Homo sapiens: one gene and its partners. The protein of the gene in region 6 interacts with the protein of the main gene of each other region in a pairwise test. Each region holds a gene or a part of one and is shown on either strand. Other genes may lie near its edges.

Region 1 (3,500 bases), on a different chromosome or scaffold from region 6:
CTTTATTGCCAGATGGGATGCCAAGGATTTTTTTGGAGAAAAGTAAGCAAAAATAAACACAGTGTTAAGCAAACAGTAATCATTCCACCTTCTCTTGTAAAAATCCCAGTGGAAGTTTTTGTCCTGAGTCACCCCTGTACGTAGCCTCTCACCGATTCTGCTGCAGAACTTACCTCTAGGTCAATCTTGAGGCCTTGGTGATACACCTCGGTCTCAAAGGTGATCAGGTGCAGCTCCTCAGTCACAATCAGGGAAGCCTACAGTAACGAGAAGGACACTCTTAGGCCAGGTGTGGTGGCTCATGCCTGTAATCCCAGCACTTTGGGAGGCCAAGGCAGGAGGATTGCCTGAGCCCAGGAGTTCGAGACCAGTCTAAGCAGCACAGCAAAACTCCATCTCTGCAAAAAATACAAAAATTAGCTGGGTGTGGTGGTGCACACCTATAGCCCCAGCTACTCGAGAGGCTGAGGTGGGAGGATGGCTTGAGCCTAGGAGATGGAGGCTGCAGCGAGCTATGATTGTGCCACTGCACTCTAGCTGGGGTGACAGAGTGAGACCCTGTCTTAAAAAAAAATTAAATTAAATAAAAAAAAAGGCTGAGCGTGATGGCTCACACCTACAATCCCAGCATTTTGGGAGGCCGAGGCAGGTGGATCACATGGTCAGGAGTTCGAGACCAGCCTGGCCAATAATTTGGTGAAACCCCGTTTCTACTAAGAATACAAAAATTAGCTGGGTGTGGTAGTGGGCGCCTGTAGTCCCAGCTACTCAGGAGGCTGAGGCAGGAGAATCGCTTGAACCCAGGAGGCAGAGGATGCAGTGAGCCGAGATCACGCCACTGCACTCCAGCCTGGGTGACAGAGTGAGACTCTGTCTCAATCAATCAGTCAATCAATAAAAAAGAGAAGGACACTTTTCCTCAGAGAGAATGGCATTCAGTACTAACAGCCACAGCCAAGGAAAGTGACATGCCAAGCCTCACCACACCAAGAAGGGTAAGCCACCAGGTGGTCACAAACAAACTGCCAGGGACACAACTTGCTCGGCACTTACTCTCTTCAACACCAAGAACTTCCAATGCTGTGATCCTCAACCTAATCCTTTACTCAGTTTGTATTATAATATTACATAGATCCAATTGGTTATTTGTAAAATACGTAAGGCACAAAGAATAACAAAACAATATGAACCCACCATTCAATTTAAGGAAAAGTCCATCACTCCTAAAATTCTCTGGGTGCCCTTCCCCAACCCCATCCCCTTCCCTCCTCCCTCAGAAATAACTGCTATTTTGTCTTTTGGGTTTATCATTTCCTAGCCCTTTTTGTCTTGTTTTGTTTTGTTTTTTTACAGTTTTACCATATTTGTTTATCTAAGCAATGCAGGTATTGTTTAGTTTGGGACATTTGTGAACCTTACACTTATGGACTCCAATGAATTCTTTTGGGATTCACTTTTCACTTGATGTGAAATGAATCCACATGGTTATGTGTATCTGCAGTGTATTCCTTTTCACAGCTGCGGAGTATTCCATTGTGTCTATACCACAAATAATGTATTCATTCTAATGTTGATGGGTATTTATTTGGGTTGCATTTAGAGCTTATAATCAGGCTGATGTCCACTTTATATATGTCTCCTGGGACATATATGCAAAGATTTCTCTGCTATTAAATCCTGGGAATGGCACCGTTGGTTTACAGGTATGTTCATTTTTATACTGCCAAATTGTTTTCCAAACTGACTACAACAATGTCTCACATCAGTACAGCAACCTTATTTTAAGTAAGAGTTGTCAATGAATTCTCAAAAATTGAATTCTAGTCTGGGCACAGCGGCTCATGCCTGTAATCCCAGCACTTTCGGAGGCCGAGATGGGTGGATCACGAGGTCAGGAGTTCAAGACCAGCCTGACCAATATGGTGAAACCCTGTCTCTACTAAAAATGCAAAAATTAGCCAGGCGTGGTGGCATGCACCTATCGTCCCAGCTACTTGGGAGGCTGAGACAGGAGAATCGCTTGAACCTAGGAGGCAGAGGTTGCAGTGAGCTGAGATCGCACCACTGCAATCCGATAGAACGAGACTCCGACTCAAAAAAAAAAAAGAAAAAAGAAATTAAATTATAATTCATTTTTAATACTATTTTTCTGATTATAAAAGTAATATATTCAGTTTAAAATGCAAATATCACAGAGACAGTCTAGAATAGCCATGGATACCAACAGCAGCACTAATACACATAGCACTGCTGGTATATTCCTCCAGAATTTCTTAATATACATATGAATACACATAAGAGTATAGTGTATTTTTAAAACACATATACTAATAATACTATTCAAATTATTTTACATTTTGCTTTTTCTTAATATGTCATGTACATTTTCCCATATCATTGCATACAGGCTACTTCACTCTACTGTCAAGTAAAATTCCACATTTTTAAAAAGGACTGCTACATTTTATTTTATTTATTTTTTTGAGACAGAGTTTCACTCTGTTGCCCAGGCTAGAGTGCAGTGGCAAAATCTTGGCTCACTGCAAGCTCCACCTCTCAGGTTCAAGCGATTCTCATGCCTCAGCCTCCCCAGTAACTGGGACTACAGGCGTGCACCACCACACCCAGCTAATTTTTGTATCTTTAGTAGAGACGGGCTTTCACCATGTTGGCCAGGCTGGTCTTGAACTCCTGACCTCAAGTGACCAGCCTGCCTTGGCATCCCAAAGTACGGGGTGTGAGCCAGCACGCCCAGCTAGGACTGCTACATTTTAAAGAGGAAGAATTGTTCAGGGGACAAATGTAAGAAAAAGAACGGGGCATCACAATTTTTAAAAATGACTGAAAACTAGCCTTCCGTCACATTTACCTTTTTTTGTTTGTTTGTTTAAAGTTTATTCTTGACAATAAGAATCCAATAATCTGAATCAATGAAAAGCAGAAAATAAGGGGGATAAAGAACAAGATGGGTTTTTGTTTGTTCATTTTATTTTATGTACTCTTTTCCTAAGCAAGCTAATGCAAGGTGGTCATTTATTTTAAAGTTTAACTCAAATCTGTTGCTTTTACACCCTCTATCCCACCTCAGTGGGAGAGAAAAACAGGGCACTAAAAATGGAGCCAAGCAGGGTCAGCCGCAGGAGCTGGATGGGGAATTTGGAAAGCCCCAGGCAAGGTGGAAAGCTGCTTTATACCACATGGGTGTGGAGAACAACTCAGCAAGGGACTTTCCACTTCTCCTTAAGGAGGAGCCAACTCCCAGATATTCACGGAAATGTTCCAAGCCAGAGAGCTCCATGGCACATGGAACTTCTGTTCATGTCACTTTGGCCTGAAGTGACTTTTTGGAATAACTACAGCTGAAAGAACAGGTTGATGTTTCTAATTCTGGGGATTAAGAAGGATCTTTACCCCTCTCTCCCTCAAGGAAAACACCCCAGTTGTCTTTCATCCCCAACAAAACTTACATCACAATTGGCTCGGCCCCCATTCCCACATCT
Region 2 (3,500 bases), on a different chromosome or scaffold from region 6:
CTCTCAAGACTAAAGTATTTTGAATTCAGGATTTTTTTTTTTTTTTTTTTTGAGACAGGGTCTTGCTCTGTAAGTACAGTGGCCCAACCATGGCTCACTGCAACCTGGATCTCCTGGGCTCAAGTGATCCTCCCACCTCAACCTCCTCAGTAGGCGGAACCACAGGTACACATGCCACCACACCCAGCTAAATTTTTTTTGGAGTGACCGGTCTCACGATGTTGCCCAGGCTGGTCTTGAATTCCTTGAGCTCAAACTCTTATTTTAAATTATCCAGGGATAATTTTAAAATGGATAACTTAAAATGGATATTTTAAATGGATAATTTAAAATAAGAGTGCCTTAAAGCTTCCTGATCCTACGGCAAGAAGCAAACGTCTGGGGGGAACACTGGAAACTGAGGTCATCTCTACAGGAACCCAAGTGGATATTTTAAATGGATAATTTAAAATAAGAGTGACTTAAAGCCTCCATTAATCAAGGCAATGATCCTCCTGTATTAGCCTCCCAAAGTGCTGGGATTGTAGGTGTGAGCCACTGCCCCTGGCCAGGAAAATTTTAAATTGTATGATTACACTATGATCCTCTACAGTAAAAAAAAAAATACATTTCAGGGCTATCAAAATATATAAAAGTAACATATGTAAAATACACAGAATAGTGCATGACACTAAAATAGTATTTATTAAGTTCATAAATTTTACTGCATTTTACTTTGACTTTAAATGTACATTTTTCTAATGCCTAATAAATACCTAATCTTACTATCTTCTTTATTTTTAAGGCCAGAAACTGAACTACATACTCAGTTTGACTTTTAGATAAGAGTTTTGGCCAGGCATGATAGCTCAACCCTGTAATCCCAGCACTTTGGGAGGCCAAGGTAGGCAGACTGCTTGAGGTCAGGAGTTCAAGACCAGCCTGGTCATCATGGAGAAACCCCGTCTCTACTAAAAATACAAAAAAATCAGCGGGGCGTGGTGGCGGAGACTATAGTTCCAGCTGCTCAAAAGGCTGAGGCATGAGAACTGCTTGAGCCTGGGAGGTGGAGGGTTCAGTGAGCTGAGAACCTACCACTGTACTCCAGCCTGCGCGACAGAGCAAGACTCCGTCTCAAAAAAAAAAAAAAGTTTTATATTAATCTTTAACCCATGATTCTGATGCTATCTGTAAGTTTATTTGATATATAATGTTTAGTTCATCAATTTAGGTAACTCAAATTCATCAGCTGAGAGAAAAATATTAAGCCCAATGTTAACAAGGAAAGCAGCAGTATTTTTTCCCCCACTCACAGCAGACATGAGAGAGGTCCTTCACACAATTCCCAAGAGTATACTAAAATTTTGATGAAATTTCTCAAAGTTGATGGTACACGTAAAAAGTATCACAAACTTCTCCAGACTGTATTATGAGTATGTGAAGAGTGAAATCAGTTCAATATCTCAAAAATATTCAATTAAAATATCAGTAGTCCAATTTTTAAATTAAATATTTTTTAAGTGAGTCTTGATTATTCCTAGGCAATGTAAAGAAAGCAAGTAGTTTTATAGTTTAAAATTATAATAGAATAACAAATACATAAATACAAAAAATTTACAGAGTAATAATTATGAATATAAACAACAGTAGCACAAGTTGTGCTAATAACATCACCTTAGATTTGGTAACAGAATTATGTGGTCTAAGGTCCATAGCATTATTTTTGCCCAAGGTAGGTGATAAAATACCTTTCATTGCTTTTTTTCTCCTGAGAAACTTATTTTTTGTAAAAGCAAAAAGAAAATAGAAATAGAAATTCAGTTCTCCAAGAATTACAGTAATTCATAGTCATCACCATTATGAAAAATACATCAATAAAAATTTCTCATTATGAAGAGGGCACAAATAAAATACACTACCGGCTTGGTGTGGTGGCTCACGCCTGTAACCCCAGCGCTTTGTGAAGCTGAGATGGGAGGATTACTTGAGGCCAAGAATTCAAGACCAACCTGGGTAACATAGTGAGACTCCATCTCTACAAAAAATTAAAAAATTAGCTGGGTATAGTAGCACATGCCTGTAGTCCCAGCTACTCGGGAGGCTGAGGTGGGAGGATTGCTGAAGCCCAGGTGTTTGAGGCAGCAGTGAACTACGACTGCACCACCACACTCCAGCCTGGGTGATAGAGACCCTGTCTCTAAAAATGAAATAAAGTAAGACTATGGATTATGTACTATGCCCATTAAAACAATGATAAGCTCACCTCTTTCTTCCGTTTTCAAAGTATGTCAAAATTCAAGTAAGTAAAGTGTATTACTACAAAAAATATCCCTCGACCCAACATCCATATATCAACAATCATTAAAACCTACCTTACAAATGATAAAATATTTCACTGATTCTCAACTTTGTGGCCAAAAATTGATAGTGTAGTTATAATTGTATAATTAGCAGAGACTTCAAAACAACTTTAGAACTGTGGTATTTTAATCATAATCTCAATCCCACTATGGGGAAGGAGAAATGAAAGGTTTCCCTAGAATGTTTATAATAGGATTGGTGGAGTAGAAGAAAAGAATAGTTGGGGTGGGGAGCAGCCTGTAATCCCAGCACTTTGTGATACTGAGGTGGGAGGATCGCTTGAGCCTGGGAGTTTGAGACCAGCCTGGGCAACGGCAAGACCCCATCTCTACAAAAATTTAAAAACTAGCTGAGTGTGGTGGCATGTGAGTGTGGTCCCAGCTATTTGGGAGGCTTAGGTGGGAAGATCTCTCGAGCCCCAGAGGTGGAAGCCGCAGTGAGACTTAGTCGCATCACTGCACTCCAACCTGCATGACAGAGTAAGACTTTGTCTCAAAAATACAAAGATAATTGGATTTTATGAAAATCACAGTATCATAATTTTATCATCTTAAAATAAGGATATGCTATACTGAAGGAATTTGATACAGAAAATGTCTGAGAAGGGGTACATATGGAACAAAAAAATATGAGACATTCTCTCAAATGAATTTACGAAAATTCTAAGGTGGCATGTTCCTCCACAAATTATAAATTCTTAGGGAAAAATAACTTTGTTGCCAAAGCTACCAAGTAGATGGTTGCTGTACTGCTTTCAAGCTACAGCACAAGCATGCCTGGAGGGCTAGGCTAGATTATTTCTGAATGAACTTCAATAATAATTCCCACAACACAAACTGAGTACTCATTAAGTTCTTGACACTGTATTAAGTATTGTATATATATCACATGAATGCTCACAGCAAGACTATGAGTTAAATTATTCTCCTTAAAGAGAAGGAAACTGAGGCAGAGAGGTTATATAATTTACTCAAGATAACACAGTAAGTGGTAGACCCCTGATAATCTGGCTTCTAATAACTATCCTAAAATATTGATTACACACTTAACTATGTGCCAGGGACAAAACTCAGTCAATTTGGCTATCATATACTCATATACACTTTCTTTATTCCAAGTGTTTCCTACATGGAAATGAATTTGTCATTATAAATCTTAAT
Region 3 (3,500 bases), on a different chromosome or scaffold from region 6:
AAAAACCCATCCTACACTAGGCCTCACATGGCTTGAGGTGATTCCCCAAAGTCTGAGCTCAGAGAAGGGCTAAATGGGGTATCAGATGGCTGGGGAGAGGGGCAGGGGCCTCCCTGGGGGTCCAGCTATCTTACTAGTGGGTGCCTCTCGGTTCGGCCCTGCTGGTACAGCTGAGTATCTGCCACTTACCTTGTCTTGAAGGTGGAGACATGGGGTGGAGAGACAGGGGGCCCCAACGGCGCTGCTCCCAAGAACTCTGTGCGCTGATCCCCGACGGCCCACTTTGTGGGCCCAAAATGTAATGGTGGATCTGGGGGCCACTGGGTATTGGATCTGCCCCCCATGGAAGAGAGAGGGGTGCTGGCCTGGCCACAGCACGGTGGCAGGGATGCTTTGCTTCCGGCATCAAAGAAGATGGAGGACATGGGCCGGTGCTCGGGCTCTGTCTTCTTGCTCTCCAGCTGCTGCTGAAACTTGTCCAGGAGGAAGGGACTGTGCGGGGCTACAGGGGCCAGTGGCTGGAAGATGTTTGTCATGGCACTGAAGCAGTGCTGGGGGGTGGACTGTGGGTTCTCCGCCAAGAGCCGCTCCTCGGGGCAGATGGGGCTTAGCTGGAAGTCTTCCCCGTCCATGGGGATATAGGGTGCCAGTGTCTCCAAGTCCAGCTCATTGAAATCCGTCTGAGGGGAGACAGCACCGGCAAAGAGGCAAGGGGGTTGGTACGACCTCACAAACACTATTCCAACTCAGCTCCTGCAGAGCCATTCATCTCAAGCACTGTTTCACAGTGCTGCTCAAACGCCTCCACTGGCTCCCGAGGGCCTATCAGGAAAACCTCAGACTTGGCTGTGTCATGTACACGACCTTGTATCATGTACCAGCCTTCCCCCATGTTTATCCCCTCTTCACCCTGCACATTGAGAAATGTTCTCCTCTCCCCATCCCACCTGTCCGGAGCCCGCCTTCTCTCTTGAAGCCGAGGCAGCCCCTCTTCCACAGAGTCAGCCCTGCCTACTCCAGCCTGTGGTGGTTATCCTTGTCCTACAATGCTTAGGCCTGTGGTGCACACTGTGGCTTTTTTTTGTCCTCTTCTCCCTCCTGTAAGCTGGCACGGGCCTAAGCAAGCAGTAAGTGCCCAGGTCCATCTGTGGACTCTCGCAGAGTAACAGCCTAACAGCCAGACCCCAGGGACAGAGACTTTGGTTCCAATCAGCAGATACTCAGATCATCCCTTAGGGTGGCAGTATCATGACGGACGCATGATACAAGCAGGGGAATACAAGCAGATGCGGAAAACAGTTTCTAACTTCAGAGACTGACACCCTCAGTGGGTGTCAGCTGACTAATGACTGCAATACTAAGCAATCTTTAAGGAGCAGAAGCAGATAGCTGTGATTAAGTGCCACATGATATATACTACAGGAGTGCTGAGGAGGGAGGGTGATAGAAAAGCTAAAATTGGGCATGTTTTGCAGAGTAGCTGGGATTTGTGCCAAGTAGGATCAAGAAACAAACTAAGTGGCAAGGCAGAAATCTGGTTGAACTCAAGACTAAGACAAATGGGGGATTAATGGTTTTCCCTGGGGTTTTGTAAAACACGTACCCCTCCCTCTACCTTATCCTTGTTTACATAGTTTTTGCAAGAACATTGGCCTTATGTAATAAATGTGTTCCTGAAAAGTTTTATGTAAATGAAAAATTGTCAAACAGATGTTATTTATTTTAAAGTGCATTTCATATAAAAATGATTATTTTTTTAAAATCACAAGATGAATGTGTTTATAAAGGGATTAATTGTCCCCTATGTTTATACATGTTTTATACATCTGGCTATGCTTGTTAAATGTAGGGCCTGTTTAAAGAAAGGTGCAGTGGTATCATTTCGGTTTTCATGTGTGCTAAGAAAGCTATCTAAGTAGGAGACACATATGCTGGAAGAGCTGGATTTGACAGTGGGAGGAGGGGGTGACCACAGGCTCCATTACCCTGTACCCCTACCTCTTTAGGGGACCTGGGCCTTGGCCAAACGTCTCCACTGCTCTTTACAACAAAGGGATGAGGCTACAAGAATGGATGTGAGCCTTTGCTGTCCACCAGACAGCAGGCACACACCCTAGCCTGATCTCCACAGCCATCTACCTGGGTACTGCATTGGTCCTTGGCCTCTGTGTCCATGGCGAAGAGCTTCTCAATCACTTCAATCTTCAGGTCGTTATCCAAAGATGTGTAATAGTCTTCAGGGCTATTGGGCTAGGGGCCAGGAAGGAGGGGGACAGAGTCAAAGATATGGCACTGGTCTCCCCAGAAGTCCAGCATGGAAGAAGAAATACCTTCCTGGACCCAAAGGTTCAATTCCATTCCACCACACAACTATTTGTAGAGGGGCTGCTAATTAACAAGCTGTATGAATTAGGTCAATTCATCAACCTCTCTAAATTCCAGTCTCCTCATCATAAAATGAGGCTACTGTCGCTTCACAGGTTGTCCTGTCTTGAGGACCAAACAGGATACAGGCTGTGGCCAGCAGGGCTGTGCAAACTGTGCAGCTCTGTGCCACATACGGGATGTTACTGCCCTGTATGGGGACTGAGCTGGGGGCTCAAAGCCCTTCAAGGAGCTTATTTCAATGGAGTTGGGGGATGAACACTAAAAGGAAGAAAACAGCTCTGATACCTGGTAGGTAAGTGTCACGGCCACTCTAGGGGGCTCTGTGATAACCTGAGAAGGACAGTACCTGTCCCAAATGTCCCTTCAGCCATCTGGCAGCAGTCATACATACGGAGCCCTCTCTGTGTCCTCGCCATAAGAGGGCTGCTCACCGTGGAGCAGCTGCTGCTGCTGCTGGTGGCACTGGGGGTGGTGCTGCCCGGGGCAGCTGCCTGGGGCACGGTGAAGGCAGGCAGGCTCCCAGCCTCGCTCTGGGTGCTGTGGCTCCTCAACTCCGTGGCCCATGGCTGGCTCGGGGGCAGGATGGCCTTGCCATAGGCTGAGGACTCCTCGAAGTTCTGATTCCCTGTGGAGACAAGGGCCTGGGAGGTGAACACCCACAACCATCGGGCTCACCCCAAGGCAGAGGAGGCCCAAAAACCGCAGAGAAGGCCCTAAGAGGGTCTGGAAGGCATGCCTGGGGCTAGGCCCCCCCAACACCCTGGGGCTCAGCTGGAACACATGGGTCTTTGACTCTGGCTATGAGTCAACGTAGAGACTCCCTTTAAACGGAACAGTCTCCTGGGACATTTAATTTTCAGAGACTAAATATATTAGGAGCCACTCTTCCCTGAGGAACAGATCCGGAAGGGTAGACAAGGAAGGTATGAGAGGGAGAGGAGAATTGGGCTATTGAGCTATTTGCCTCAGTACTGCCACAAAACAAGCCGCGAGACCTACTGGCCAAGGGCCCGCTGCGTTTCAGATTCTCTTTAGCTGCAATCCTCACGTGGCCGCTGTAGAACCCATCTAAAAGGGGCTGACACAGTCCAGGGTGAGCACCACTCTTCCGG
Region 4 (4,023 bases), on a different chromosome or scaffold from region 6:
AAACAAAAAATCTCTTAAATGCTAGAAATTGATCAAGAAAATATTCACTGATGCATTTGGTAGCTTCAAAAGTTGAATGGGGGCAGCTTCCCCAAGCCATGAGTGTGACTGTATACAATTCTTGCCTAACACTTCCATCCTTAGGTTGGTGGAAATTTATGAAAAATTGATCTTGTAGTTTGTTTTGGTTTCTAGATAAACTTGCAAAGGTTGCAAGCCTTTTCGCTATCTCTACCATAATGCAAAACCAACTATGTCAGCAATGTTTTCAGCCTGCCATATCAAAGTATTCCAGAAAATTAAAATTTAGAGCTGCCACTCTCTACAAGGCTTCACCAAATACTTAAAAACAATAGTAGGAGGGCCAGGCGCTTGAACTTTATGCTATCCCCCGCCATCAGTCTCAGCTTAAGGAAACATACGTTCTGGTTGGGAATTATTCCTTTACCCCAATGCCTAAACATTTATAAATTCTTAACCAAAGAGTTTATGCTTGGTTTTAAATATATTAAATAGTTTAGTTTAATGGAGCTCTTTGGAGCATTAGTTCGAATAATCCCCATGTCAGAAAACCCCAGGATGCCTCCACATGGAAGTGCTACCTAAAGGATACCAGTGCTAGGAATTCAATCTTATATATTATGCTATATTTAATTTATACTGTTATATATTATATATATTTGTAATTTGGAATACATATATTTATATATTTGTAATTTATTCAAGTGTATAATATATTTTATACACAAGGAATAAAGGAAACAGTTCAGTACTCATTTTTTTTTCCGTGGATTGTCATGTTCCCTCTGGTAATGGGAAATTTCCACAAGCTGAGCTTTCCTTACTGCATTTTCCAGCCACAAAGATCCCAAAGTTCAGACCTCATTGCCTATACATGAAAAAGGCCACAAAAACACCAAGATGGCAATGTCTGGGTCAAAGTGTGTCCAAGCCCTGAAGCGGGTTTTAGAATGGCTCCCCTGCCCGATTGCTTTTTCGGTTTACTGACCTGCACTGCGAGTTCAGTCACATTCATGCTTCTTGCCAGCCTCCTTCTATGGAAGAAACCACACGTGTTCAGCATTTGGAGTTGTGGGTGTCGTTTCATTCTTGTGTTTAATTTTTTTATTCTACCAACTCCCCACACCCAGTAGGCTGTTCTGTAACACCCAGCTGAGCCTCACATTAGGAACATTTCTCTCATGCCACAAATAAAGGAGATGCCAAAAAAAAAAAAATCAGGGCGGTGGCTCACGCCTGTAATGCCAGCACTTTGGGAGGCCGAGGCAGGAGGATCACTTGAGGTCAGGAGTTCGAGACCAGCCTGGCCAATATGGTGAAACCCCGTCTCTACTAAAAATTCAATAATTAGCCGGGCGTGGTGGCTGGCGCCTGTAATCCCAGCTACTTGGGACGCTGAGGTAGGATAATCTCTTGAACCTGGGAGGCAGAGGTTGCAGTGAGCCGAGATCGCACCATTGCACTCCAGCCTGGGTGTCCCAGCGAGACTCCTTCTCCAAAAAATAAAAAAATAACCCCCCCATAACAAAAAAAATCGTTAATCAATATAAATGACATTCTAACTTACTATTTGAAACTTAGAAAAATTAACACCAAAGGAAACCCAGACGAACGACGGACTTCTCAGAATTTTAAATAAGGTCAGAATGCGACCCTGCACTTGCTGTACAGAACCTTAATCTCCTCATCTTTATTTCTGCCTCGCCTGGGATAGGAGTTATTTATCATAACTGACCTCAGCCCAAAGTTGCCCAACTTGGTTCATTTAAATTCTGCATGATGCCTAATAGGCATAGCCCCACTACAGAACCCACTAGGTGCCAGGGGTCTGCGGGGAGGGGACGGCAGCAACACCAGGCCCCAGATGGGTTTTGGTTCAGGAGGGGAGAGGGTAGGAGAGGGACTGCGGGAAAGCCAAACGCCGCCTCCCTGCAAACCGCGCGCCAACCAGAGCAATGGGCTTACCGCAGGAACTCACTGGGGAACTGCTCGCGTTGGAAAATGCGCTCCAGCTCCTGCAGCTGCAATGGGGTGAAGGCGTGGACGTTGGGCTGCTGCGCGTTGCCAGGCTCCAGCCCCCCGACGGCGCCCTGTGGGCGCGAATACTGCTGCCCAGGTTCCTTCTCGCTCTGGTCGCTGTCCTCAACGTTGCCATCGCTGCCGCTGGTGCCCTCGAGGTCTCCTTCCCATAGGTGGCCAGGAACTCCGGCGCCGCCGCCATCTTTTTCTTCTCCGCCGCCATCTTTTTCTTCTCCGCCTTGGGCTCCTGCCGACTTTAACTTTTCTCCTGCTGCTGTGCCTTGCTCAGGCTCAGGCTGTGCATCCTCTTCCTCCTCTTTGACCTCTTCAGTAAGCGACAGCACCATAGCATTCATATCTGGAAAAGTAGAAACCCCAAGAGAAAGATCAAGGCATTGGTCCTGAGGGTGTTGGAAGGAGGTGGTGAGGGGCTACACTCTGAGAGCAGTGGTAGTGCAGGGGTATCATCCAGTCTACTCGCCTCTCCCAGAGAACCTTGGTTTCCTGAGTTCGCAAAAGCATGTGTCCCATCAAGGTACTGACCCTGTAGTTCTTTCTCGTCGTCGACTGCAGGGCTGAGCAAGCTGGTCATATACTGGCTACACTGGTCCGGAGGCTCCATACCCTGAGTGGTGTGGATGGAGCTGTGCACTTCTGCAGATTCTGAGCTGGGGCCACCACGCTCTCCTAGGCAGTGCTAGAACTGTGAGTCGCCGCCTGCAACGTTCTTCTGGTGTCTAGACTCAGCAACAGTGTATCCACTTAGAGACCTCCTCTCTTGCTTTTCTGCTTCCCGCTATTTGCTGTGGGTTGGGCCTGCTGAGGTGCGCATGCGTCAGGGGCTTGGCCTTGCCCGGATGAGGGAGAGCACGCGTTGGTGGTGTGGGGGGGGAGGGGTAAGTGGTGTAGTAGGGTGTGGGGGAGGGGGGAGTAGGGCGTGGGAGGGGGAGTAGGATGGGGTGCGTGCTTGCATGCGTTGTCCTGTAGACAGGCATGCGTGAGTGTGGAACTTGGGGGAAGCTGCTGTGCTGAATTGTGCAAGCCCATTTTATGGCGATAAGGGAGATTTTGCACTAGCCCCATGCTTCCTAGGTCTCCAGGAGCAGGAGCTTGGGCCTGGATTTGCAAAGCTTGTGGGCTGCGCAAATGCACTATGTAAAAATGCAGCACACTCCTTGAGAAAGTCCACTATTAATTCTTAGTAATGAATCCACATCAAAGTGCAAGGGTGGAAACATGCACAATGATGCTTAGAGCATCCGAGATTGCTTTTCTTTTCTTTCTTTCTTTCTTTTTTTTTTTTTTTTTTTTTTTTTGAGACAGTCTCGCTCTGTCTCTGGAATGCAGTGGCACTATCTGGGCTCACTACAACCTCCATCTTCTGGGTACCTAGATTCAGTAACAGTGTATCCACTTAGAGACCTCCTCTCTTGCCTTTCCTCTTCCCACTATTTGCTGTGGGTTGGGCCTGCTGAGGTGCGCATGCCTCAGGGGCTTGGCCTTGCCTTGGGCACGGGAGAGCACGTGTTGGAGTGGGGGCAGTAGGACGGGGTGGGGGGAGTAGGGCGGGGGAGGGAGTAGGGCGGGGGGGCGTAGGGTGGAGGGGGGGAGTAGGGCGGGGGGGCCGGGGAGTAGGATGGGGTGGGTGTTTGCATGTATTGTGCAGGTACTCAGGAGTGCCTCAGCCTCCCGAGTACCTGGAACTACAGGTGCGCACCAGCACACCTGGGTAATTATTGTATTTTTAGTAGAGACAGGGTTTCACCATGTTTGCTGGGCTGGTCTGGAACTGCTGGCCCCAAGTGATCCACCCACCTCGGCCTCCCAAAGTGCCGGGATTACAGGCGTGAGCCACCGTTCCCAGCTGCAGCCAAGATTTCTAAAATTGCAGGGCATCCTTCCTTTGCCTTTGGTTGTGACTGTGGATAGCGCAGCTTCTGCTATGTCTCTGGCTACAGACCCATTACAAATGCGCACTTACCT
Region 5 (3,500 bases), on a different chromosome or scaffold from region 6:
CTGCAGTCTCTCACATACCACCTTCATGACTTTCCTTATCTGCCTACAACCTGTACTACTGTTTACTTATTATTTTTCCTCATATCAATTATTTTTGCTCAGCTTTGTCCTTACTATATTTCCGTGAAATAACAGGCTTGATACCATAATTACATCTTTTCCAATGTACACTATAATACATAACTTAAAAATTGGGCATCTATATGCCATCTAAAATCATCTCATACATATACACCAGTTATGTCTTCTACCACTCTAGTTCATTTTGAAACAGCAAATTCATAATGAAGATTCCAAGTCTAAAATGTGGATCGTGTATATCAACTCAGTAAGCTACTAAGTTGTTAAAAAAAAAAAACAAAAAAACCCACAACAAACAGGAAGCCTACAACTTTTCACCTGTCAGTGTTCATCTATTTTACAACTAATCACCAAGATAATGCAATCCTCCAAAAAAATCACAAAGCTTCACACATAAAGAAACATATCGATAACCACTGTGAGTTAATTTTTAAATTGTGAGCCCTCCACATGGGCCTAAATATGCCAAGGGGCCCCTCAGGGGGTAGCCAGGGAAAAGACTAAGAAGGAGAGGCTCTAAGGCAGGGGTCCCCAACCCCGGGGCCGCACAGCAGGAGGTGAGCTGTCAGCAAGCAGCTGCTCCCCATCGTGGGCATTACCGCCTGAGCTCTACCTCCTGTCAGATCAACAGCCACATTAGATTCTTATAGGAGTGCAAACCCTACTGTGAACCGAGCATGAGAGGGACCTAGGTTGTGCACACCTTATGAAAGCCTAATGCCTGATGATCTGTCATTGTTTCCCATCACCCCCAGGTGGGACTGTGTAGTTGCAGGAGCACAAGCTACATTATGACCAGTTGTATAATTATTTCATTATATATTACAATGTAATAACAACAGAAATAAAGTACACAATAAATGTAATGCATTTGAATCATCCCAAAACCACCCCCCTCACCACGCCCCCAACCCGGGTCCATGGAAAAACTGTCTTCTACAAAAATGGTTCCTGGTGACATAAGGTTGGGGACCACTGCTCTAAGGCTTTGACCCCACTTCACCCAAAGCAGCTCTACCTTCTGCTCCATACGTTTAGGCTTCAACATAGTACTTCTCAACGCAGGATTCTGATGTTGAACTAAACCATATGCAAATCAGATTCATTCTGCTTTCTTACTGCAAAGTTCAAAACTAAAATAAAAACAGGATTCCTATGAAATATATGCTACAAGAAACTAATGATCACAGTTGAACCTACAAAGAGGAATTAGCTGCAGTTTTTACCAGTAAGTGTTGGATACTCTTAGAAAACGGTTCTCCAAGAAAATCAAAATAACAAGAAAGAGGAAACCTTACCTCATGTGCACAAGCAGAAATGTGAGGAAAATCAGAAGCCAACGCTTTATTCTTTCTAAAGAAAAGGAAACCAAATGATAAAATAAAGATGACAAAGAAAAATGATCTTACCTGATTTCGTTCTCTTTTCCCAGCTGATGGTAACCAGAAACTAAAGAGAGGGAGAGAATAACAGGAAAGAAAACAATAAAAGAAGTGATAGGAAAATTACAGAAGGGAGAAGAAGATAAGATGTTGGAATAATTAAGTAAAGACAAAGAAGGGAATAGAGAAAAGATGTAATCAGAGGAGGAGAAAGAGATTAAATGTATGTGAATGTTTTGCAAAAACAAAAACAAAAAAAAACCTCTTCAAAGGAAAAAGGCTTGTAATGGAATGTAAAAGACTGAACAACAGAAATAAACCCAAGATTACACTGTGACACCAATGATCTCTCAGCTGTGCAGTGACAAGAGTCTCAACTCATGAAGGGCATAAACCACACCCACATCTTTATTTTCTATGTAAAATTAGCCCGAGTTGGATGTGTATAGGATCATAACTGGGTACTGACCATGATGCATACAAGATATATGAAAGAACCAACCATTTTAGGGGACAAGGCTGTCACAAGAATTGGCAGAATTATTTTCCTGTAGCTACATACAGGCTTCCTACAGCACTCACCACAGTAATTAGAACAAAAAGATATTTCACAGGTTGGGCGCAGCGGCTCACACCTGTAATCCCAACACTTTAGGAGGCCAAGGTGTGCAAATCGCTTGAGCCCAGGAGTTCAAGACCAGCCTGAACAACATGGCTAAACTCTGTCTCTACAAAAAATACAAAAATTAGACAGGCGCAGCAGCATGCGCCTGTAGTCCCAACTACTCAAGAGGCCAAAGTGGGAGGATTGCTTGAGCCTAGGAGGCAGAGGTTGCAGTGAGCCATGACTCTGCCACTGCACTCCAGCCTGGGCGTCAGAGCCAGACCCTGTCTCAAAAAAACAGATATTTCCCTATGAAAAGGTCTAAAAATGGGAAGAGAATATAGGAGGATAGAGGCAATCATCCATTTTGGAAAAAAAAAAATTTAGGGACAGAAAAATTAGTTTAAAATAAACATCTTTACTGGAGGCTACTAATGCAGCATCTGTAGGTATAAAAAAACAATACAGTGAAACTAGTCTAGAAAGGAAAAGAAAATCACTGCCACAGGTTTAGGATGTTGCCATATTTAACTGTTACAACGTACAAATCTTTAAGATCTCTTTGAACTCTGAAGCCTGATTTCTAAGTTGCTCCATAAAACTCCCCTCTGCCTCCTCCTCCAAGGAGCAGACTAGCACAGCCAGTAAATACATAAGCACTTACTCTTTCTGCCGAGGGTCACTAATGATATGGCTTATCCTCTCAGTCCCCAAAGTGTTTATGCTGGTCTCCTAAAAAGAAAAGGCAGACAAGAGTATCATCCAACCACAGAAACAAACATATAAAGTACAATATCAATCTTTCCCATAACTGTGCCAGCTAAGGCAACCTCAAAAGGCACATGTTAAAAGTCAATCTTAAAATAAAACAGCAACTATACTTCTTTTTATTGGAATCCATCTTAAAAGTATTACATGTTACCCTACATTTATTATTCTCCAGTGATCCAAAAGTCTTTATAAATACATCATAGACACTGTTCACCATATATGGTATTTTAATAAGTACTATACCTCCTGTAACTACTGAAGTATATAGGAGTAAAAATCCTTTTTTAGAAAATTCAACAGTAGCCAATTTTTAACAGGCCAACACACCAAGCTTCCTAGAGAGCTACGTGATTTGATTATAGTTCCAACAGCCTTCATCCTGGGACATTACCAAATCCTCACTGGTAAAATGTAAATATCTGCTGACTAAATATAAATACATCAAGAGAATTTTGTGACTTGCAAAAATTGTTACTCTGTACTTTGTCCCTCAAACATCATCTCATGAAATAAAAATAGAAATTTGTATAAAATTGATTCCTAAATTCAGGGTTCTCAAGATTATAGTGTAAAAGCTTACCCATAACACCACAAAGAGTTCAGAAACGAACCATTTCCAAAAAATTGGAAAACGGCAATTCACTCTTCATTTAACTTGAGTA
Region 6 (3,500 bases):
AGCGGGTGAGGAAGCAGACGACTGGCTTAGGAAAATGGAAGTATATCCCAAACCTTCTGCAGAACCAAAGGAACATCATCTCTGAACCAAATCATTACTCACCACGTGAGTAATCCCTTCCCTGTTCCTTCCAGGAGGGCATTGTAGCTGTGTGTATCATTGGATGACTAAATCTACTATTGGAGGCAAGGTATCTGGTTTAAAAATGGTGTAAAGAACCCTTTTGTCAAGCTCCAGTGAGTTGAGCACAGAGCGCCTTGCACACTACTGCGGGCCATGACAGAAAGCCCCTTGGGACCCCTGGACCTCCCAGGCCAATCTAGGGTGGGGACACCATGCATAGGAACCTCCTCCTCAAATCTGGAGTGAGGCCAGCTCATTGGGAGACACCAGAGGGCCCAGAAAACAGCCACTGACAGCCACTGCCTGCTGCTCCCTGGAGACTGTAGCGCATCAAAGGGCTTTCTTCATGTGTTCCTCTATCCCACACTGCAGGGATTGCATTCCTGAATATCTCAAAGTAACTCAAGCTCTTTACTTGCATTTCTTGCATATCCTGAGGGGGGATATTTGGAGCAAACTTGTTTAAAGTTTCCACTTTTTGGTCAGGCACAGTGGCTCGTGCCTGTAATCCCAGCACTTTGGGAGGCTGAGGCGGGTGGATCACTTGAGGCCAGGAGTTCAAGACCAGCCTGGCCAACATGGCGAAACCCCATCTCCACTAAAAATACAAAAATTAGCCAGGTGTGGTGGCGTGCGCCTGTAGTTCCAACTACTCGGGAGGCTGAGGCAGGAGAATTGCTTGAACCTGGGAGGTGGAGGTTGCAGTGAGCCGAGATCACGCCACTGCACTCCAGCCTGGGCAACAAGAGTTTCCACTTTTCTCTCCTCACCTCACTCACATACTCTACCTATACTTGAGCCTCTGGTTTTTTTGGGTTTTTTTTGCTCTTTCGTCTTCCTGGGTTTTTAAAAAAATATGGAACACTTTATGAATTTGCATATTATCCTTGCTCAGGGGCCATGTTAATCCCTGTATCATTCCAATTTTAATGTATGTGCTGCTGAAGTGAGTACTTGAGCCTCTGTTGCCTCCAACACCCTGAGAAACTTGCCCCAGCTGCAGCTCTTAGGAGTTTTTCGGCCACCTCCCTCCCCTCCTTGTTCTCCATCTCCAAAGTCCTAGGAGTGTCCGTCAAGGCGAGCCCTCTGTGGAGGGGAGAATGGGGGAAGAGGCTGCACAGGCCAAGCCAGAGAGGCAGGGGCTGGGGTTCCCCTTCACGCAGAGTTTTCTGGGCAGTGGTTGCTGGCAGTTGGACTACGGTGATGAGAAGCAGTTCTTAACGTGTGTCTGTAGACCTCAGAGTCCACTGTGGGCTTTCAAATCATCCCTTCAACCCGCTCACACCTCCCGTGGGGATTTCGACCTGCATTCATCTCTGAACACTAGGCGTGTGCCAAAGTCCACACTGACAAATGAGAACCAAAGTGAACAGTCAGGGTCTCGTCTCATCTCACCCAGGCTGAAAGGTGGCTCAGAAGTGGGTCAGACTGGCTCGACCAGGCACCCCAAAGGTGTAAGACTGAGAAAGAATTTTGAGTCACAAAAGGAAAGCAGCAGTGCCATCCTCAGGAGCCCCAAATGTCACAAACTGACAAATGACTTGGGCAATGTGATTGTGGTATGTGTTGCCATGGTTTTTTCAGATATTGCATGTTCTGAGAGCTTCATGGCAGCACCCATGTGGCTTAGAAACTGATTGTGGCACTCATTTGTACAGCCCTTGCTGGTAACACAATTTTTCTGCTGGGAAGTGCATCAGTGAAGGCTTGGGAGTAGACTTATTCTGAAGTCCTGAGATCTTATGGCCTCTTACTTCTGGTAACCATCATGGGGAAATCTGGACCCAGGCACTGCTAACTAAAAGCAGAATTGTTGATGCTACAAGAGAGTTGCAGTTGACCTTGAAGTTAGGAGTCAGATCCCAGGTCTATGTGACCTTGGAAAAGTCACTGTACCTCTCAGAGCTTCAGTTTTCTAACTTGTGAAATGGGGTCTGTGTGTGGCTATGGCCTCCTGTTAGCCTGTTCCTACTTCTTTCTTTCTCACCTTAGTTGTCATATCTGGTCCCTGGTACCCACTTCTTTACCAGTCCTTGATCCTGTCTTCAGCCTCAGAGGCATCCTGGACCCTGCGTATCCCTAGGCAGCCCGTTGATCCCAGTCACCTGCTCCTAGATGCCCAGAACAGGGTTTCTCAGCCTCAACACTGTTTATGCATGGGGCAGCATAATTCCTTGTTGTTGGGGGCCTGTCTTGTGTGCTGCTGGATGTTGAGCAGCATCCCTGGCCTCTAGCCACATGATGTAGTAGCACCCCCGACCAGCTGCGATAACCCAAACTGTCTCCATACACTGCCAGTGTCCCCTGCAGACTGCCACAATTGCCCTACTTGAGATCCACTGCCTTAGGCAGCTTAATTTCTGAGGCAGAGCTGGGATCCACAGTGATTTCACCACCTCTAATTTTTAGGTGTCTGCTTTGAAACTGTCCCGACAAATACCCAGAGAGGGAGCACAGCAACCTCAAACCCTCCCATGGCAAAGGATTTGGAACTTGGCAGAATTCGAGCTAGAGGGGTCATATTTTTGGAAATAATGAAGGGTTTAATGTTCTTTGCTTGCTTTTTGTTTGCGTTTACTCCAGGAATTTCTTCTGGGTGTGAGGTGGGTTTCATTTCTTCCCCCTTTGCTGCTATTCAGTGTTCTCTGGCCTCTTCTTTCTTCCCTCCCAGCTCCTCTTGTTATTTTCAAAGGGCTCGTCTCACCTAAAGATTTTGACTTCTTCTCTTCTTGTTATTCCCTCAGCTCAATAAAAGTCCCTCAGCGGGTTTATGAGTAATGCTTAAATCCTAGAAGAGAAAGTCCTTATGGAGAAGGCAGATGAGGGGCCCGTGGGGCACCTGTCGGGCGGCTCTGAAGACTCTAAGCATGGGTTGGGGGAGGGCAGTGGACCTCAGGGAAGCCTCAGGCCACAGGGCTGCGCACGGCTTCCAGAGACAAAACTGGGAAGCTCAGAGCGTCTTGCTGCGGAATTCAGTATATGTAGAAAGGCAGCTTGGAATATTCTACCAAAGGAAGAGGGCTTCTTGTCCTTTGGAATCTACTTAAAATGTTAGCACATTGGAACTATTCAAATGTACTCTCCATTTTACTTGAAAGTCAAGGGCATTTCCTGCTGCAGGGTGGAGTGTGTGTGTGTGAGTGTGTATGTGAATGTGAATGTGGGGAGTCTGCATGTGAGTCTGAGTTTTTGTGAGTGTGTGTGACTGTGTGAGGTGTATGTATGTGTGTATGACTGTATGTGTGTGACTGTGAGAGTGTTTGTGTGACTGTGTGTTGATTGTGTATGTGTGTGAGAGTGTCTGTGGCTGGGTATGAGAGTGTGTTTGCAGATGTGTGTGTGACTGTGTGTATCTGTGTGTGTGTCTGTGGTTGTGT
Region 7 (3,816 bases), on a different chromosome or scaffold from region 6:
AGGATGCATTTCTCACAACGTACCCCCTTCACTAACCAATGCATGACTGTATGGATTCCTCAACCACAATTCTAAACATCTTTCCTTGCAACTCACTGCATCTTGGTGTTGGCTTAATGTTCTTTCTCATTTACTTTCATTTAGTTTTTAAAAAATTCAGCCTATTTTGGATATAATTGCAGATTCACATGCAGTTGCAAGAAATGATACCCATCACCCAGTTTTCTCCCGTGGTAACATTCTGCATAGCGATAGCACAATATCAAAACCGAGAAATTGGGTTTAAAGCCTTTTATCTACTCTCACAGGCACTAGGGATTTTTAAAATTCAGAGTTTAGGAATCACATTAATATTATCCAATTTTAAAGATTCCTAATCAGATTAATCAGGTAGCAAGTAAGGGTCCAAACTAGAGGAAGAGAAATGGCCTCTAGGAAAAAAGATTTCCTGAGGTTTCTCACTCTGTAATTTGGAACATAGGGATCAGAGGCAGAGAAAATCAGTTTACAATGCATAATGATATGTCTTTATTTCATCAACAGAAATGGTGTCTAGACAAAATTCAGTTAACACTAGCAATTCAATTGAGTGAAAACTTTTTTTGCACAATAGTGTATTTACAATGAGTAAATGAAGTTTCAATTCATTAGTTCATAGCAATGCTTTTTTCCCCCAAAAGGTAAAAATTCTTAGTTACAGAGAATAAGCATCAACAGCCTTTCATTTTTTACAATAAAAACCACGAGAAAAACCACAATCACTTAGAAAAAAATAAGGACAAGCCTAAGAACTAGTACAATAAAATGATGCATTGAATTAAATTACATTAATCGCATAGAATCTGTGTAAAAAGTATGTAGAAAAACACCTGATGTAACCTGTTACAGTCGTTGACCAGTTATGAGAGGTACAGAGGGTTATACAGGTAGATATGTGTGAAAACTGTCCGTATTGTTCAACCTGGGGAGGAAGAGAAGAGGGGCTGCAGCCCCTTGCATACACTGAGAAGACCCTGTTTTGAATATGGCCTCTGGAGTTTGTAAGGCATATATTAGAGGTGCACTTGCATCAGACTGGTTCTGGAACAAATTGTCAAATTGTCACAGGCTCTCTTGGCCTCACTAGCAAAGGTGGTGCTTGCCTTGAATGGCTCACTGTGTCTAACAAGCACCTGAAGCTCCCAAATGCATATGGAATCTTCCTGATCACTCACTAGAGGTGCCATGTCTTTATGTCAGAGCGTGAAACGGGCATCCCAGGATTTGCACACACAAAATACATTGTTAGGACTTAAGGGGAGGTCATAGTTCTGCCTCCAAACATGTTTTGGTAGAAGACTGAGCATCCATCTGTAGGAAAACCCCTCTTTGTCCAAGTCCCTTCACTCTTTCGCAACATATGCGTCTGATTATTCCCATGGGAGCACTTGGCACTGAATGTGAGTCTACCTGAAATGAATGGTCTTGGTGCACACTTCTGCTTCTAAGAAGGGCCAGTGTTTTATCTGAGGTCAATAAACTGGAATGAGAATGAAAGTCAGAGCTGTTTATCCATTGCTTGACAGCAAAATGCATACACCGTGTCACAACATTAAATCAAAGCTATGAAAGTTGGCCTCTGCAACCAAGTGGGTATTCTTCACAAAATGGCAGCATCGTTTTCATATTACATTTAAAATGCACTGATATTCATTTGATAGAAATATCATCTCCCAGGGTGGAGTGTAGGAAAATACTATAAACTTTTCTTTGCAAGTAATGTTTTTGCACCGTCAGTTGAATAATTTATGCTCAATCTGCCACAATGAGACTTTTCTATGTACAAATGCTATTTGCACACACTATTTGTGTACAGATATGTTCTGTTCTACAGCATCGGTTTTGGACGCTGGGGTCATGAGATGGCTCAGGCAGTACTATAAACATACACTTTCAACACACAATGCCTCGTGCACACAGATTTCCTGTATGAATACCAACTCCACACAGGGCATTGTATTGTGGACTGACTCACCAGAAATTGCACTTCCAACACAGTCTTCAGTTTGGGGAAGAAACACTAACTCATGATACAACGAACAGCTTTATTCTTAGAAAACAAAAACAAAAACAAAAAACACCTTGTTCTTTAGTCTATTTACAGTCATTTGAGGACCAAACTTGATTCTTGCTCCTTCTGGATCTGAGACTCCTCCTAAACTGTAAGCAATAGTGAAGCAGTTTGAAGTCATTTCTAAGACAGCTCCTAGTTTAAATGGGGCATAATGTAGAGAAGTAGGTAGCCAAATAGGGACTTGAGAAAGCTTTGCAGGCAGCTCTTCCTCATTTTGAGAGGATTATGCTACTCCACAGGATGTCAAGCAGCTTCACGGGACAGGAGTTTTTGGTGTCTTAACAGGCTTATCATTTTCAAACCTTTGTCTGTTCCTTCTTTTTCTTCTTCTTTGATGGCAATCATAAAATATTAAAAGAGAAAATGTGGGTTTAGGCCTCTTGACAACAGCATTAAACTTCACACTGTGCACACTTCACTTTAGCCAGTCCTCTCATGAGTCTTGTCGCTGGTCCTGGCTCCTTTTGAAGGAGTAGTGGCAGTTGGCATACTAATCACTAGACTTTTGTTCCCTTCCTTGGAAAAGCAATGTAAGGATTACATCCCGAATTATAGTGCATCTTAAAAGCAGCAAACCTTTAGAAAGACAGTTAATAAATTACTCGCACAACATTCAGTTGCAGACACACAGAGTCAGGTTTTCCACTGCAGCATCATCTCTGATGCCTGAGTCATTGCTGGGAACTCAGAAGATAAATAGCAGGATGGCCTCGTAACTTTGTCGGTTTTTTTTTTTTTAAAGTTTTTCTAACTGTTTTGTTCCAGAATCAGTATGTAATAAAGTTCGATTTTAATCAAGGCACCCCCAGGTAACGCAGAGAAACAAACACATACAGCAAATCACTCACCTGTCCAAAGCCTGACCAACTTGAAAAGAGGTTGCCTGGATACACAAGCAGGACAAAGGCAGATCCAAGGGGAGGACTGGATTTAGGTGGGATGTTCATTAGTCTCAGGGTCACTCACCTCCACTGGCTCTGCCCCAACAACCATTCCTACCCCAGCCATTTGGAGACCCAAGCAGGCATCCTCCTAAACAGCCCGTGGTTGGAGGGTCTCTTATTTTTGTAAGAAAAGAGCCTTAAGAACAACCAAATGTTACTGTACTGTGCAAACACTCTTCCTTGCTGTTCACTCACTTTTCTTTTTCCTAAAAGGCGTGGGGTTGACAGAGGGATCCCAGGGAAAAGAGACAGGCTAGGTTTTAAAATTCCACTTGAGGCCGTTTGGATTCTGGTCCCCAGCAAGTCCTCCCTTTGAATCAACCCAGAAATAATTTTGACAAGCACATAGTTCTGAATAGGAAAAGACACACACACATCACATGAACAACTGCACGAAGCTAGTCACTGTTCATGGTGGATTATGAATGAAATAACTTGTGAGAAATCTCTATGAAATTGGAAGATGGTTTTTAGAGCAGTGTTTTTAACCAGTTCCCATGGCAGAAGTTAGGTTGGGGGAAGAGGAAGAAAAGCAAGGCAGGGGTGGGTGGGAGGAAGGTGAGGTCTGAGTTAGGGTGGAGAGAAATAAAGAGGCCCCGCCCCTGCTAGAAATGGCTGCCAAACAGGTCTGGGCTACTGAACCACAGAAACCTGAGGAAATGGATGGAATGTGGTCAAGACTACCAGTTGCACATGAGTTGTTACCAGGGTAAACCTCATGCCAAGAAGCTGGGTTGGACCTGGTTATGATATGAGCAG

What was found.
Region 1: the proteins of BATF3 (region 6) and STAT3 interact in a two-hybrid assay, tested with the Homo sapiens proteins (one large-scale study listed by BioGRID and IntAct).
Region 2: the proteins of BATF3 (region 6) and ATF2 interact in binary tests that used the Homo sapiens proteins (3 or more experiments, as listed by UniProt).
Region 3: the proteins of BATF3 (region 6) and EPAS1 come close enough for resonance energy transfer, tested with the Homo sapiens proteins (one large-scale study listed by BioGRID).
Region 4: the proteins of BATF3 (region 6) and RHOXF2 interact in binary tests that used the Homo sapiens proteins (3 or more experiments, as listed by UniProt).
Region 5: the proteins of BATF3 (region 6) and GPATCH2L interact in binary tests that used the Homo sapiens proteins (3 or more experiments, as listed by UniProt).
Region 7: the proteins of BATF3 (region 6) and BACH2 interact in binary tests that used the Homo sapiens proteins (3 or more experiments, as listed by UniProt).

The regions. Positions count from the first base shown.
Region 1 is NC_000017.11:42,325,943-42,329,442, forward strand, and holds part of STAT3 (signal transducer and activator of transcription 3), read right to left. Parts: coding exon 3,468-3,500; intron 258-3,467; coding exon 174-257; intron 1-173. UniProt on the Homo sapiens protein: Signal transducer and transcription activator that mediates cellular responses to interleukins, KITLG/SCF, LEP and other growth factors. Once activated, recruits coactivators, such as NCOA1 or MED1, to the promoter region of the target gene.
Region 2 is NC_000002.12:175,158,204-175,161,703, forward strand, and holds part of ATF2 (cyclic AMP-dependent transcription factor ATF-2), read right to left. Parts: intron 1-3,500. UniProt on the Homo sapiens protein: Transcriptional activator which regulates the transcription of various genes, including those involved in anti-apoptosis, cell growth, and DNA damage response.
Region 3 is NC_000002.12:46,377,407-46,380,906, reverse strand, and holds part of EPAS1 (endothelial PAS domain-containing protein 1), read right to left. Parts: intron 3,014-3,500; coding exon 2,820-3,013; intron 2,251-2,819; coding exon 2,140-2,250; intron 681-2,139; coding exon 190-680; intron 1-189.
Region 4 is NC_000023.11:120,157,390-120,161,412, reverse strand, and holds the start of RHOXF2 (rhox homeobox family member 2), read right to left. Parts: upstream 2,801-4,023; 5' UTR 2,663-2,800; coding exon 2,584-2,662; intron 2,399-2,583; coding exon 1,987-2,398; intron 1,056-1,986; coding exon 1,010-1,055; intron 1-1,009. UniProt on the Homo sapiens protein: Transcription factor maybe involved in reproductive processes. Modulates expression of target genes encoding proteins involved in processes relevant to spermatogenesis.
Region 5 is NC_000014.9:76,175,922-76,179,421, reverse strand, and holds part of GPATCH2L (G patch domain-containing protein 2-like), read right to left. Parts: intron 2,800-3,500; coding exon 2,732-2,799; intron 1,531-2,731; coding exon of another isoform or gene 1,435-1,530; coding exon 1,380-1,434; coding exon of another isoform or gene 1,278-1,379; exon of another isoform or gene 1-1,277.
Region 6 is NC_000001.11:212,689,841-212,693,340, reverse strand, and holds part of BATF3 (basic leucine zipper transcriptional factor ATF-like 3), read left to right. Parts: intron 1-973; exon of another isoform or gene 974-1,077; intron 1,078-3,500. UniProt on the Homo sapiens protein: AP-1 family transcription factor that controls the differentiation of CD8(+) thymic conventional dendritic cells in the immune system.
Region 7 is NC_000006.12:89,926,028-89,929,843, forward strand, and holds the end of BACH2 (transcription regulator protein BACH2), read right to left. Parts: 3' UTR 501-3,816; downstream 1-500. UniProt on the Homo sapiens protein: Transcriptional regulator that acts as a repressor or activator. Binds to Maf recognition elements (MARE). Plays an important role in coordinating transcription activation and repression by MAFK.